Linked DNA regions of Homo sapiens: region 2 is linked to region 1. The links come from fine-mapping of genetic effects on gene expression. Tissue or cell type: hippocampus. Region 1 holds a variant in brackets; the other region holds the start of a gene. All regions are shown on one strand. Distances are between the middles of the regions.

Evidence for each region. PIP is the estimated chance that this variant, and not a neighbour inherited with it, causes the effect.
Region 2: it holds the start of LINC02716, and the variant in region 1 is fine-mapped to the expression of LINC02716 in hippocampus (GTEx, PIP 0.94).

Annotation. Positions count from the first base shown.
Region 1 is chr11:45,972,590-45,977,589 of GRCh38, reverse strand. All of the region lies in intron 7 of PHF21A (PHD finger protein 21A), which reads left to right. Among named protein-coding and RNA genes, the nearest start is that of LARGE2, 52 kb to the right of the region's middle. The variant T/A (reference allele first, on the strand shown) is at 2,660.
Region 2 is chr11:45,766,809-45,774,860 of GRCh38, reverse strand. LINC02716 (long intergenic non-protein coding RNA 2716) reads right to left here and starts at 3,429. Exons shown (of 2, transcript NR_027134.1): 1 at 3,147-3,429; 2 at 2,503-2,868. RefSeq lists an enhancer at 3,236-3,737.

The sequences.
Region 1 (5,000 bases):
GTTGTTCTCTTTCCAAAGTACAGGTTGATCAGAAAATGTTTATCTGAAAGGAGTGTGGTAGAATTCATTGTTTCCTGTTACATAGGAGTTTTCTGTCTTAACCCATGGAAACATCCTGTTCAAGTAACATTTTATGTTATAAAAATCAAAGGAGGCTAGGCACAGTGGCACACGCCTGTAATCCCAACACTTTGGGAGGCCGAGGTGGGTGGATCACTTTAGGTCAGGAGTTTGAGACCAGCCTGGCCAACATGGCAAAACTCCATCTCTACTAAAAATACAAAAATTAGCCATGCGTGGTAACATATACCTGTAATCCCAGCTCCTCAGGAGGCTTAGGCATGAGAATCACTTGAACCCGGGCAACAGAGGTTCCAGTGAGCCGAGATCGTACTGCACTCCATGCTGGGCGACAGAGCAAGACTCCATCTCAAAAAAAAAAAAAAAAAAAAATCAAAGGAAGCATTTCCAAAATATAATAGCTTTTCCTTTCCCTGGTAGTCTGTGTTGCTTTGGGATGGTGAATGGTAAGAGGCCCAGGGCTGCCTCCAAAACAGTGTTGTATAGCACCTCTCCATCCAGTAGCCCACCTGACATATTTAATTGATTTTGCCAACCTTTTTTAAATATTGTTTTATTTAATGCAAATGATGCAAATGTTTAATGTTAAAAACCAAAAGGATCCTCTGAGTTTTTGGTTTTTGAGTTTACAGGTAAACTACAAATCTGGTTTTTGGTGTTTGTTTGTTTGTTTTTTAGACAGGATCTGGCTCTTTGACCCAGGCTGGAGTGCAGTGGCACAATCTCAGCTCACTGAAACCCCTGCCCCAAGCCATCCTCCCACCTCAGCCTCCCGGGTAGCTGGGACTACAGGCACAGGCCACCATGCCCAGCTAATTTTTGTATTTTTTGTAGAAACAGGGTTTCACCATGTTTGCCAGGCTGGTCTCAAACTCCGGAGCTCAAGTGATCCACCCATCTCGGTCTCCCACAGTGTTGGGATTACAGACATGAGCCACTGCGCTTGGCACTACTAACCTATTTATTGGTACTACCAATCTATGTGGTAGATTCTGGTATACAAAGAGCAGTGGTCCCTGCCAAAAGTCTGGTATATCATTATTAATAATTTTTATTCATTCTGTAAATATTTGTGGAGTTCCTACTGTGTGCAAGCACTGTTCTAGGTAATGTGGAGACTAAATTCACAAATCAGAGAGTTTCTATTTTCAAGAATTAAAAAAATTTAAGATGTAGAGAAATTTTGAGGACAGAGTAATTTTGACTAGAGGGATCAGAAAGTACTTGTCAAGGAGGGTTGCATCTGAGCAGGGCCCTGTCAGATGAATGGGATTTTAGTGATAGAGCAAAGGGGAAAGAGCTTCACAAGTATAGAGAGTAGTATGAACAAAAGGATGGCGTCAAAATAGTAAATGTATGCCCTGGGAATCGTAAGTAGGCTGGTGTGGTTGGAGTGTGTGATCCACGAAACGATGGAGAGGAGATAAGGCCAAGCCCTCCAAAGCATGCCAGAGCTTCTGGGTTTTTTAACAGTCATAGGGAAGTCTAAGGCAAGGACAAATGGGAGGTTATATATGGCATATATTAAATACATATATTTAATGTATGAGGGCAAGGACGAATGGGAGGTTATATATGGCATATATTAAATACACAACTTCAGAAAGAATTAAATATTAAGTAGCAATCGGGGGGCCAGGGGGAGATGCTAAGAGGAGAAAGTTTTTTATTCTAAGTCGGGTGATTGGCATATACCAAGGCGTAGAGAAAGCAATGAGGAATTCTTTTTGGGAGAGGGAATGGGAACAGTTTGCTTTACTTAGTTAACGTCAACTCATGCTTATAGGTGTATTTTAAAAGTTTTCCAATCTACAGAAAAAGTGAAAGAATAGAACAGTTAAATACAGGTATACTCTCCAACCTATATTCACAGCCCTCTAATTTTTAATGGCATAATGCAAATGTAAAGAAGAAAGCAGTTAATAAAACCAAATGGAAAACAAACCTTTGGAGACAAAAAAGGGAAAAGTTTCTATTTGTGGTTGTTTGAGTATACATCATGACTGCATTCAAAATTAAACCAGCAAAATAATATAAAACAGATGTGGAAGTTAGATCCCATAGTAATAATCCCTTAAATTCTGATTTGTATATTGGAGTTCATCTGTTTTATTTTATTTTGTTTTGTTTTATTTTATTTTATTTTATTTTATTTTATTTTATTTTATTTTATTTTATTTTATTTTGTTTTCTTTGAGACAGGGTCTCACTGTGTCACCTAGGCTGGAGTGCAATGGTGCAATTACGGTTCACCTCAGCCTTGACCTCCCAGGCTTAGGTGATCCTTCCACCTCAGCCTCTCAAGTAGTTGGGACTACAGGTGTGTGTCACCATGCCCAACTAATTTTTGTATTTTTTGTAGAGGTGGAGTTTCACTATGTTGCCAAGGCTGGTCTCAAACTCCTAGGCTTAAGTGATCCGCCCACCTTAGCCTCCCAAAGTGCTGGGATTATAGGCATGACCCACTGTGTCCAGCCTGAGTCCATCTGTTTTAAATCAATACTTCATATTTGGCAGGCAGACAACAATGACTTAGCAAATAAATAAATAAATAAAAAGGATTTTGCTATTGGCAGTA[T/A]TTGCCATGCCATGTATTTCTGCATTAACTTCTAGCTCATGCAATTTGGGTTTTGTCAAAATAAAGGACCCCATCATGAAACTGTGGAGAAACAGCTACCTTCTCTTAAAGGTGATCATACTTAGACACTGTTAACTAGCTAAAAACAAATCACAGCTTTCATATAAATAAATCTCTTGGTTGGGTGTGGTGGCTCATGCCTGTAATCCCAACACTTTGGGAGGCCGATGTGGGAGGATTACGTGAGAGCGAGTTCTAGACCAGCCTGGGCAACATAGCGAGATCACGTCTCTACTAAAAATAAAAAAAATTAGCCAGGTGTGGTAGCACCTGCCTTTAGTCCAAGGTACTCAGGAGAATGAGATGGGAGGATTACTTGAGCCCAGGAGGTCAAGGCTGCAGTGAGCTGTGATTACGCCACTGCACTCTAGCCTGGGTGACAGAGCAAGACCCTGTCTCAAAAATAAATAAACAGCAATAATAATAATAATAATAATAATAATAATAATAATTTGTCGTTTGACACCTTTCTTCTCTATGTCTCTTCTTCCTCCTTCCAGAACAGTTCAGACATTTTAATTAGACTTGGATTTCAAAGTTCTAAATTCCTTTTGTCATCTAAACCCAGGAGTTTGGTTTGTGTTCCCTAATACTTGGGAAAGAAGAAGCACCAGAGTAGGGGTAAAGATCTAAGCACTACCTGGGTCTTGGTGTCAATAAATAGTAAATATATTCTTCAAAAAGTTTTCACTGAAGCATACAGTACTAGGTCTTGTGCCTGTATACTAGACAAACAGGTATGTAGATGCTAGAAATCATGTAGTGAAATCAGCCATAACCATAGTTGTAAAATAAAAGAAAACTGCTAACCTAAGATGTGAACAAACTTGTTAGGTTTCAGTGTTTTTAAAGTGTTGGGTTAATGGTAAGTATATAATTCAGGTGAGTTTGAGGCTTTAGTCAGTATTTTGTAGAATCATCAGTTTAGAGTTATTCAAAATATTGATGATTTACTTGAAACAAAAGTACATTGACTTCTCTTAAAGCAGTAACAACATGCGTTTCTTTAAAATCCATGTCAGTGAGTTCTGACTAGAGCTTTACTCCCACAATCCACGATAGCACTGGATTGAACGCCATCTGGTGTGACTGGATCACCACTTCAGAAGTTCTTTAAATCGACATGTTTTAAATGGAAAACAAGGGCTAATACACTGTGGTAAAAACACTTACTACAAATTGCTGATAATGCAGTCAGTCCTTGCTGTTACACTACTATTAATATACCATTTCTAATAATAAATAGCATTTGGCTTTTATTTGGTTTTCATCACTGATCGAAGATAGGTGATCCACTGCACCCCAAAATAAATATCAGTGTTCCGCGTTTACTCTCATTTCACATTTAAGGAGGCAATGGCAAAGAGAATAAGCCACTTAGCGAAGAGGAAACAAAGATTTGGATGATGATCTTAAAAGATTAGATAATATGTGTATATGCGCATAAGGCAGAAAAATAGAGATAAGTAACTCCCTAGAAGCAAACAACTTAATACCCCTAAGTAGAAAAGCATAGACACTGAAATAGAAATTCATAAGGGAAGTTGTCCAGATGTGTTTCTGAGAGAATGGAGGTACTTTTCACTGGTATTGCACAGTGATAGAACTTTCTGTGATGTTGGAAATACCGTCTATCTCCACTGTCCAGTTTGGTCACCACTAACCACATGCGACTTTTGACATTTGAAATGTGGCTAGTGCAACTGAGGAGCTGATGTTTTAATTTTGTTTTTGTTTTAATTAATTACATTTAATTAATTTAGTTTTTATTTTTATTTATTTATTTTTTTTTGAGACGAAGTCTCACTCTTGTCGCCCAGGCTGGAGTGCAATGGTGTGATCTCGGCTCACTGCAGCCTCTGCCTCACGGGTTCAAGTGATTCCCCTGCCTCAGCCTCCCGAGTAGCTGGGATTACAGGCGCCTGCCACCACACCTGGCTAATTTTTTTTTTTGTTTTTGAGACGGAGACTCGCTCTCTCACCAGGCTGAGTGCAGTGGCACAATTTCTGCTCACTGCAACCTCCGCCTCCCGGGTTCAAGCAATTCTCTTGCCTCAGCCTCCCGAGTAGCTGGGATTACAGGTGCCTGCCACCAGGCCTGGCTGATTTTTGTATTTTTAGTAGAGATGGGGTTTCACCATGTTGGCCAGGCTGGTCTCGAACTCCTGACCTCAGGCAATCCACCCGCATCGGCCTCCCAAAGTGCTGGGATTACAGGCACGAGCCACCGCACCTGGTCTACTTTTTGTATTCTTAGTAGAGACGGGCTTTCGCCATGTTG
Region 2 (8,052 bases), 200 kb after region 1:
TTCATTCTCTCCTCCTGAAGAATGGCCCCCTTCCTTCTGCTATTGTTCTGTGGAGTCCTTCTCTGGTGCTTGGGAGCCCAGCCAGCAGTAGCCTCAGTGACCCCAGGGACAGGCCCCCACAACAGCAGAGGAGAGAGAGAGGGACCGGGGTGTTGGCGGCGAGGCTGGTGTGGAGATAGGGAGATGAATGTCTTAGCTGGAGGAGCTGGAGAAGTCCAGGCTGCCCATTTTTCAGAGGGGAAAGCTGAGGCCCTCATAGAGCAAGGGATTGTCCAGGGAAAGGAACGTGAGTATCGAGGAAGAAAAACCTGGGGGGCAGGGGCCCAGAAGAGAAGGCAGATCCCTCTCCACCCCACCCCAGGCAGGAAGCCCAGGCTCCAACCACCGCCTTTGGGCCAGGCACCTCTGCTGTCCTCTGAAGGGGTGGGGAGGATGAGTGTGGCTTCTGGCCCACTGGACATGCTTGCAAGGCACATTTGCAGATTTGCTGCTGCAAGGGGAGGGGTGGGCTGGTGGGGAGGTGCCGGCCTGATGGGGCACCTGGAGGGTGGAGAGACCCCTAGGCTCCTGTTTACTCCCCCTCAAGTCTCAGAGGCAGCCCAGAGGCAGAAGGAGACTTGATGGACACTTGCGCAAAGTCAGGGCTGGACCGGGCAATTCCACATGCAGTTCTCCTGGCTGGTGAATTCTTGAATTAGTGGGAGGGCAGGTTCACTCTCCAAAGTTGGACCATAAATTCTCCGAGGGGCAGGATCGCCTCACCCGGACACTGGCCCTTATACATCCCAGGGTACCAGTAAATGTACGCCTCATCCAGTCGCTTTTCTAACTGCAACAAGAGCGAAGGAATATTTATTGGGCACTTACTCTGTTCTAGACACTATCACAGCAGGGACTGCTTTTCATTCTGGCACCAATTCTGGGAAGTAGATGGTATTATTATCCCCATTTGACAGAGGTGGAAACTGAGGCCCAGAAAGGTGAAGTGCCTTGCATAGAGACTTGCTCAAGGTCACATGCAAATGGAATCAGGACTGGAATCCAAGTGGGTTCAGAGCCTGCCCTGAATGCCCCACTTTTCCTCCTTCCTAGGGCCCGTGGCACTCTTTCTGGGGCCAAGCTCAGGCCAAGCTGAAGGAGCCATTCTGGAAGCAATTCTGGGCAGACGAAGGCCAAGAAGCCAATTCACAGCGGTTGTGCTGACGAGTTTCTTGGCAATGTGGAAAGTCTGACGATCTTACAAATGTGTGAAACTGAGACTCAATTTTCCCTCATCCTACCTCCCCTTTCTACCCACCCTCCAACATGGATCTAAATATGGATGCTATATTGGGGGAGTAGCCCCCCTCTCTAGACTGCAAGAGAAGATGACGTTGGGGAGGAGGTGGGGCCAGCCAAATTGGGCAAGAGCGGCCTCAGATGATGCTGCCTCCAAAAAGGTCCCTGTGTAAGTATGAGGTGGGTGGCTGAGATTTCTGAAATCCGTATCTGAGATGACTAGGTGGAGTCATACATTTCCACCCTTCTGGGGTTAAGGACACAGCCTTAACCATTTAGGGTGACCATTTAGGGTGAAGTCACTGTTTATGGGAGTCTAAACTGTGACTTTGGCAAGGTGCAATATAAAAATGCTAATACATGTTTATGCACTAAGCTGGAAATAATGCCAAGCCCCTCAGTTAAAAAAAAACCTGTCAAGAATTGCAGTTTCCTTGAGTCGGAGGAACTAAGTGAGCTGTTAAATGAGGACTGTAAACCTGCCACATGGCGACGTTGCTTTGGTTATTAAATAGAAATACCTGCTTTCTATATGCATGCACTGTTGTTTACATGCCTCTGAATTTCTAATTTCTGCAGGAGATTCTGGTGACTGGTGTGCCATTTTCTCAATGTTCACAGTTATTATAACTTTAAATATTTTACCCATATCCTGTAACAATGTCATCCAAGTGTTCTTTAAGTGGTGGTGCTGAAAAACGCACCTGAAAATCGATAACATTGGAAAGGAAGTGAGATGTGATAAAACGTTATGAAGAAGGCCAAACCACCGGCAGGAAATGCTGCACTGTTAATTTAGCAGAGAGTGCGTTATGAAATATTAGCGATAATGCCAGGGAAATAAAAAGCAGCATTAAGGCAAAAATATGCCACAATTGGAGTAATGTATGCAACCTATCCTTTCTACTTTGCATTCATTTCTCTGGCAAAATTAGTCAGAAATTATGCACGCTTTGAATTATGCAAGTTTTTCAGGACCACATGCTTTGCATAAAACTCTACTGCCCTGAGGTTCTCAGTGGGTGGAAGAATGAGTGACCATATTCTAGGGTTATCTTAGGCCAGGCCGTTGTACCCTCCTGTCCTAGGTGGGGATGAAGTGACCTCATGTGTAAAATGGGACCGTTGGACTGGCTTGTCTTTCTTTCCTTATTAGACTATGTCGAGACAGGCACCATTATATTTCTGCCCCAAAGGTGTCTTTTTCTGGACGGATCCCACAGCTGATACCAAACTTGTCTTTATTAACTGTGAGGCTGGCCATTCAAACACCAGGTGCCAGAGAGGGTCCCTCACTCATCGGAATCCGGGTGGGATGAATCCTCGGAGGCAAGGTCCCTCCACCTTCACCCTAGAGTCACACAGAGACTTGCCCTGGCGGCTGGTGACAGGTGGGCGGGAGAAGAAAAGGCCCCTGGGGAGCAGGAGAAAGCCAGGTGCCATGGGGACCCAGCGCCGCTGGAGGGCAGCACCAGCACACAGCTGAGGCCGCCTCTCCCGGAGCCCGGAGGGAGCTGGGTTCCGGTCGCCAGCGGTGCCCGGGTGAGCAGTTCACCCTCACGTCCCTGCTCTGACGAAGTTTCCATTCTTCTGGAGAAGACAAAATAAACGTGAACAAATGAACAAGTGTGCATTGTCAGGCAGCAAGTGTTGGTACAAACAAGATAGTGGTGGGGGTGGGGACACCGTTAAATAGGGGCCAGGGAGGCCTAACCCGGGAGGGGATAGCTGAGATGCCACTTGAGTGGAGAAAACAGTCCGAGATCTGAAGGTGTTCATGGAGAGGGGAAGGGGCCCCTAGAGGAGTCGGGAAAGCCTGGGTCAGGGAAGACGAGAAAACTGAGGAACAGAGAAGCCAGGTAACTTACCCAGGGTCATAGAGCCGGTGAGCTGGGGACAGCGCCTGTCAACGCCCCAGAGCCTTCCACGGCACTGGTTTCTCCGACCTTCCTCTCTAAACAGGACCGTGACAGTGACAGTTTCTGCCCCACTCCCCATTTCTGACCGCAGTCCCCATAAGGAAACAGGGCAGGGATCACTGGCTGTGAGCCCAGCAAGTCCCCTCCCGTGGCTTTCTCAGTTATTAAATGGAAGGGTGGGTCCCCCCATAACTCCGAAGCTCCCCTCTCTAAGCGTCCGCGGGCCGGGAACGCCTGAATTCTGGCTCCCGAGCACCTTCTTGTGGACAGTTTTGGAATCACACGCTCAGCGAGAAAGGGTCGTGGGAAAATGGTCTGTGCTAATTTCGGAGAGGCCAGTGGATTGGAAGGTTATCACTGAGGGTGGGTGCACGTGTGTGTGTGTGTGCGCGCACGTGCATGCGTGCATGCATCTGTGTGCCTGTGTGTGTTGGTCTGTGTGTGAATGTACCTCTGTGCGTATCTGTGTGTATGGTTGTGTGTGAGCACATACTGCCCGAGCCTGTGTGTGTGTGAGTGTGTGTGTGCACTAATGTTTGTTTATATGGGCACAGGCACACACATGTCCATGTCCATGTGTGTGTACCTGCATCTGTATTTTTTCGTCTGGTGTATGGGCTTGTTTTTGTGTGCCTGCATGCATGTGCCCATGTGCGTGTGTGTTTTGGGAACTGGGACACAGAGGATGATATGAGAAGTCCCCAGTCTTTCTCACAAAGGCCTAACCACTCTCCCTGAAGCCAGCTTTCTCCCCTACTTGCTTCTGTCTGCACCATCACCTGAGTTCTCCCACCTGAACTTTTCACCGACATTTTTGATGATTTTTCTGTTTTGTGTCCGTTGAGGCTCATTTGAATGTTACAGATCATAGCTCAAGAAATGATTCTCAGGCCGGGCATGGTGGCTCATGCCTGTAATCCCAGCACTTTGGGAGGCTGAGGCAGGTGGATCGTCTGAGGTCAAGAGTTCAAGACCAGCCTGGCTAACATGGTGAAACCCCGTTTCTACTAATAATAACAAATTAGCCAGGTGTGGTGGCGTGTGCCTGTAATCCCAGCTACTCGGGGGGCTGAGGCAGGAGAATCACTGGAACCGGTGAGGCAGAGGTTGCAGTGAGCTGAGATCCCTGGGTGACACAGCGAGACTCCGTCTAAAAAAAAAGAAAGAAAGAAGTGATTCTCCTCTAGTCTACTCACCCAAATCATGAGTTTCACTTCTCAGGTGGGCTGATCACCCACTGTCCTGTTGAGACCTGGGGACTTGTACAAAGTCGTACCCTGGAGGGTTGAGCAGAAAACCAGGCACATAGTAACTAAGACAATGGCGCGTTAGCAAAGCACTCCACACATCCCGTTCACATGTGTGTCTTACTTGACTCACAAACTGATCTTTCATCCTTTTTTTTTTCCTTTTTTGTGGTGAACAGGGTCTTGCTATATTGCCCAGGCAGGTCTCAAACTACCGGCTGATCTTTCAAGCCTAGGCAAGGTGAGGCTAATTATTCCCATTTTACAGATGAAGACACTGAGGCTCAGAGAGGGAAATAATGAAAATAGTACTGCAGGAACCATCTAACCAATATGCAAACTCTCTCATCCAGTTTTCATAACATCATCAATTCCCTTCTTTAAAAGACAAGGAGATGGAGGCTTTAAAAATGTAAGGCGAGTGCTTAATGCCATATAGCCAATCAGTAGTTGAGGCAGGATTTGAATCTCGCTCCAGAGATTAAAGCCCAAGTCCTAAACACAATGGCAGGCGTGAGGGCCCTGGGCACACACTGACTCAAGCTCTTTCAGCCACACACTGTCCCTTTGCCATGCCTCTGGGGTCCTAAGAACATCCTCCTCTGAGCCCACAGGGAGGTCATTCCCCATCCTGGGTGCCCCTGCTCCTCTCCCAGATGCGGGGCAGGTGAATCTTGTAACCTGTGTCACTCTCAGAGGCTGAGATGGGGACTGAGCATTAATTATGCAATAACCTCGCTGTGGTGTGCCTAATTGTCTGATAACCATAATTGAATCTTATGGATTACACCAACATTATTGCAGGGAGCAGCTTAAGGCAGTTAACAGAAGCTGCACTCACTTTGTGATATCTTCCTCCTGTCTCCTTGCTGGCTGGGCTGTGAGTCCTTTCCTGGGGGCTGAGGGAGGCCTCGAGGTGCAGGGGGCAGGCAGGAGGTGAGTGACAGCACAAATGTCGCATCACCTTATCCCCCCGAGGGCACCATCTTCCTGGCTGAGAAAAGTCTGTGTGGCAGGTGGAATTATCATTTTGTAAATGAGAATGTGGCATCAGAAGGCTGAGAGACTCTCCCAATTTCAGTCTTGCTCATTGCTACTGGTCCTTGCTAGCATCATCTGGGACTGTTTAGACGTGCAGCATCTCAGCTGGGCTCGGTGGCTCACGCTTGTAATCCCAGCACTTTGGGAGGCCAAGGCGTGTGGATCATGAGATCAGGAGTTTGAGACCAGCCTGACCAACATGGTGAAACCCCGTCTCTAAAAATTAGCTGGGCATGGTGGTGCGTGCCTGTAATCCCAGCTACTCAGGAGGCTGAGGTAGGAGAATTGCTGAACCTGGGAGGCGGAGGTTGCACTGAGCCGAGATCACGCCACTGTACTCCAGCCTGCGTGACAGAGCAAGACTCCGTCTCAAAAAAAAAAAAAAAAAAAAAGAAATGCAGCATCTCAGGCCCCACCCTGGACCTACTGAATCAGAAGCTGCATTATTTTTTATTAAATGAATTTTTTTTCTTTAAAGAGATGAGATTTTGCTCTGTCTTCCAGGCTGGAGTGCAGTGGTGCGATTGTGGCTTGCTGCAGCCTCGAACTCCTGGGCTTGAGAGATCCTCCAGCCTCAGCCTCCCTAGTAGCTGGGACTACAGTCGGAGCCACCATGCCTGGCTCTCAGAATCTGCATTGTAATAGCATCTCAGGTGATTTATTTTCACGTTGCCGTTTGCTGAGTGCTGGTTTATGTAATTATTTATTCATTGCCTATGTGGGATCCATTGCCCTTTCTTGTGTCAGCAACACCTTGACTTCCATTTGGGAAATAACCCTTCTTCCCATATGGGAGACCCCTAGCTGTACCCTTACTCCTACCTCCCTCAGGCATTGACCCCAGGCCAGGCCAATGAGTCAGTTCCAAGATCTTTGAGGCACTGTTGAGGAAGACGTGTTTGATGGAGTTTTGCTGAGGCTTCTTCATTCCCTCCCTCCCTTGCATGGTTCACTGTGGGTGAATATTCTTCCCCACACCATCCATGGTGAGCTCAGCCACTGACTTGCTTTGGTCAATGGAATGTCGGTAGAAGTGATGATGTGTGGGTTCCAAGCTAGGCCTTAAAGAAGTATCTTGTGTTTCCGCTTGCCCCTCTAGAGCTCCTGCCCACCATGAGAAAGGAAGGTACACCCAGGCGACCATGGCACCTTCATCTGGAGTCCAGGATGGAGACTGTGGGGCAAATTGAACCTAACCAGAGACTGGAGTCCAGCCTAACTCTGATATTAACAACCCCCCAACTAACCTGCAGACCCATGAGTATGAAAGGAATGGTTGTTATAAGCAACTGAGATTTTCAGAGTGCTTGTTGCATGGCATTGGTGCAGCAGACACCTGACTGGTATAAAAGACATACTTTCTTTCCAGGGGGATTGCTAAGCTGAATTTGGATTTTAGGTGTTATCTTGTCACTAGGAAAGCAGGGCCTGCCTAAGGGCAAAACCAACCCAGAGGGAAATGGAGCTGAGATAGGATGAGAGCCCTGATCATGATGACAGCCTTTGTTTTCATGGATCCAGCCTCACAGGAGTTAGTCAACTCTTTCAGTCTCAAGGAGTAGAGAGCTGAAACTTCGCTGGCTTAAACCCAAGAAGGAATTAGCGGCTCACATAGCTCAGAAGTCTGGAGGTGATGTGGGTTTCAGGTGAGGCTTGAATCAGTAGCCCCTGGACCAGTGTCCTTGTCTCTCCACTCTGGGTCCCATTTTGCTGGTTTCATCTGGAGGCTGGCTCCCCTTTGTGATATCGTAAAATACATATTGAGTTGTTGTCCACATTTCCTGGCATGTTACTCCTAAAATCTATGGAATCTCCAAAGTGGTAAGTGTCTTTTTGTATGCTAATGAGTTGACAGTTGGCTGGCAGCCCCTAGGTAGCTTGAGGATGGGGGCTACTCCAGAAAGTTCAAGGCAGGATTAGAGGACTGGGGCTTTCAGCCCCACTCCCATTCTCTCTTAGAGGGGAGAGGGGCTGGAAGTTACGTTGATCACCAATGGCCGATGGCTTAATCAATCACGCCTGTGTAATGAAGCCTCCATAAAAACCCTGAAGGACAGGGTCTGGAGAGCTTCTGGACAGCTGGACACACGGGGCTCCTGGAGGATGGCGCTCTGCTCCCCCATACCTTGCCCTATGCATTGCCCATCTGTGTCCTCTGTGGTATCCTTTATAATAAGTGAGTCAACGTGTTTCCCTGAGTTCTGTGAGCTGCTCTAGCAAATTAATCCAACCAATGAGGGGATTGTGGGAACCTCAATTATAGTCAGTTGGTCAGAAGCACAGCTAAAATACTCTGGGACTTGTGATTGGCATCGGGAGAAGGGGAGCATCTTGGGGACTGAGTCCTTAGCCTGTGGAACCTGACGCTATCTCCAGGTGGGGAAGTGAACTGAATTAGAGGACACCGAACTGGTGTCTGCTGCGTAATTGATTGCTTGCTTACTATGTGGGAACGCCTCCCCAAACACCCATCTGGTGTAAGAAGCCCACTGTGAGTGTATAGTGGGAGAAACAGTCTGCTTATCCATGTATTCTCAGACCCTCATTGGAGCACGATGGCGTCCTTG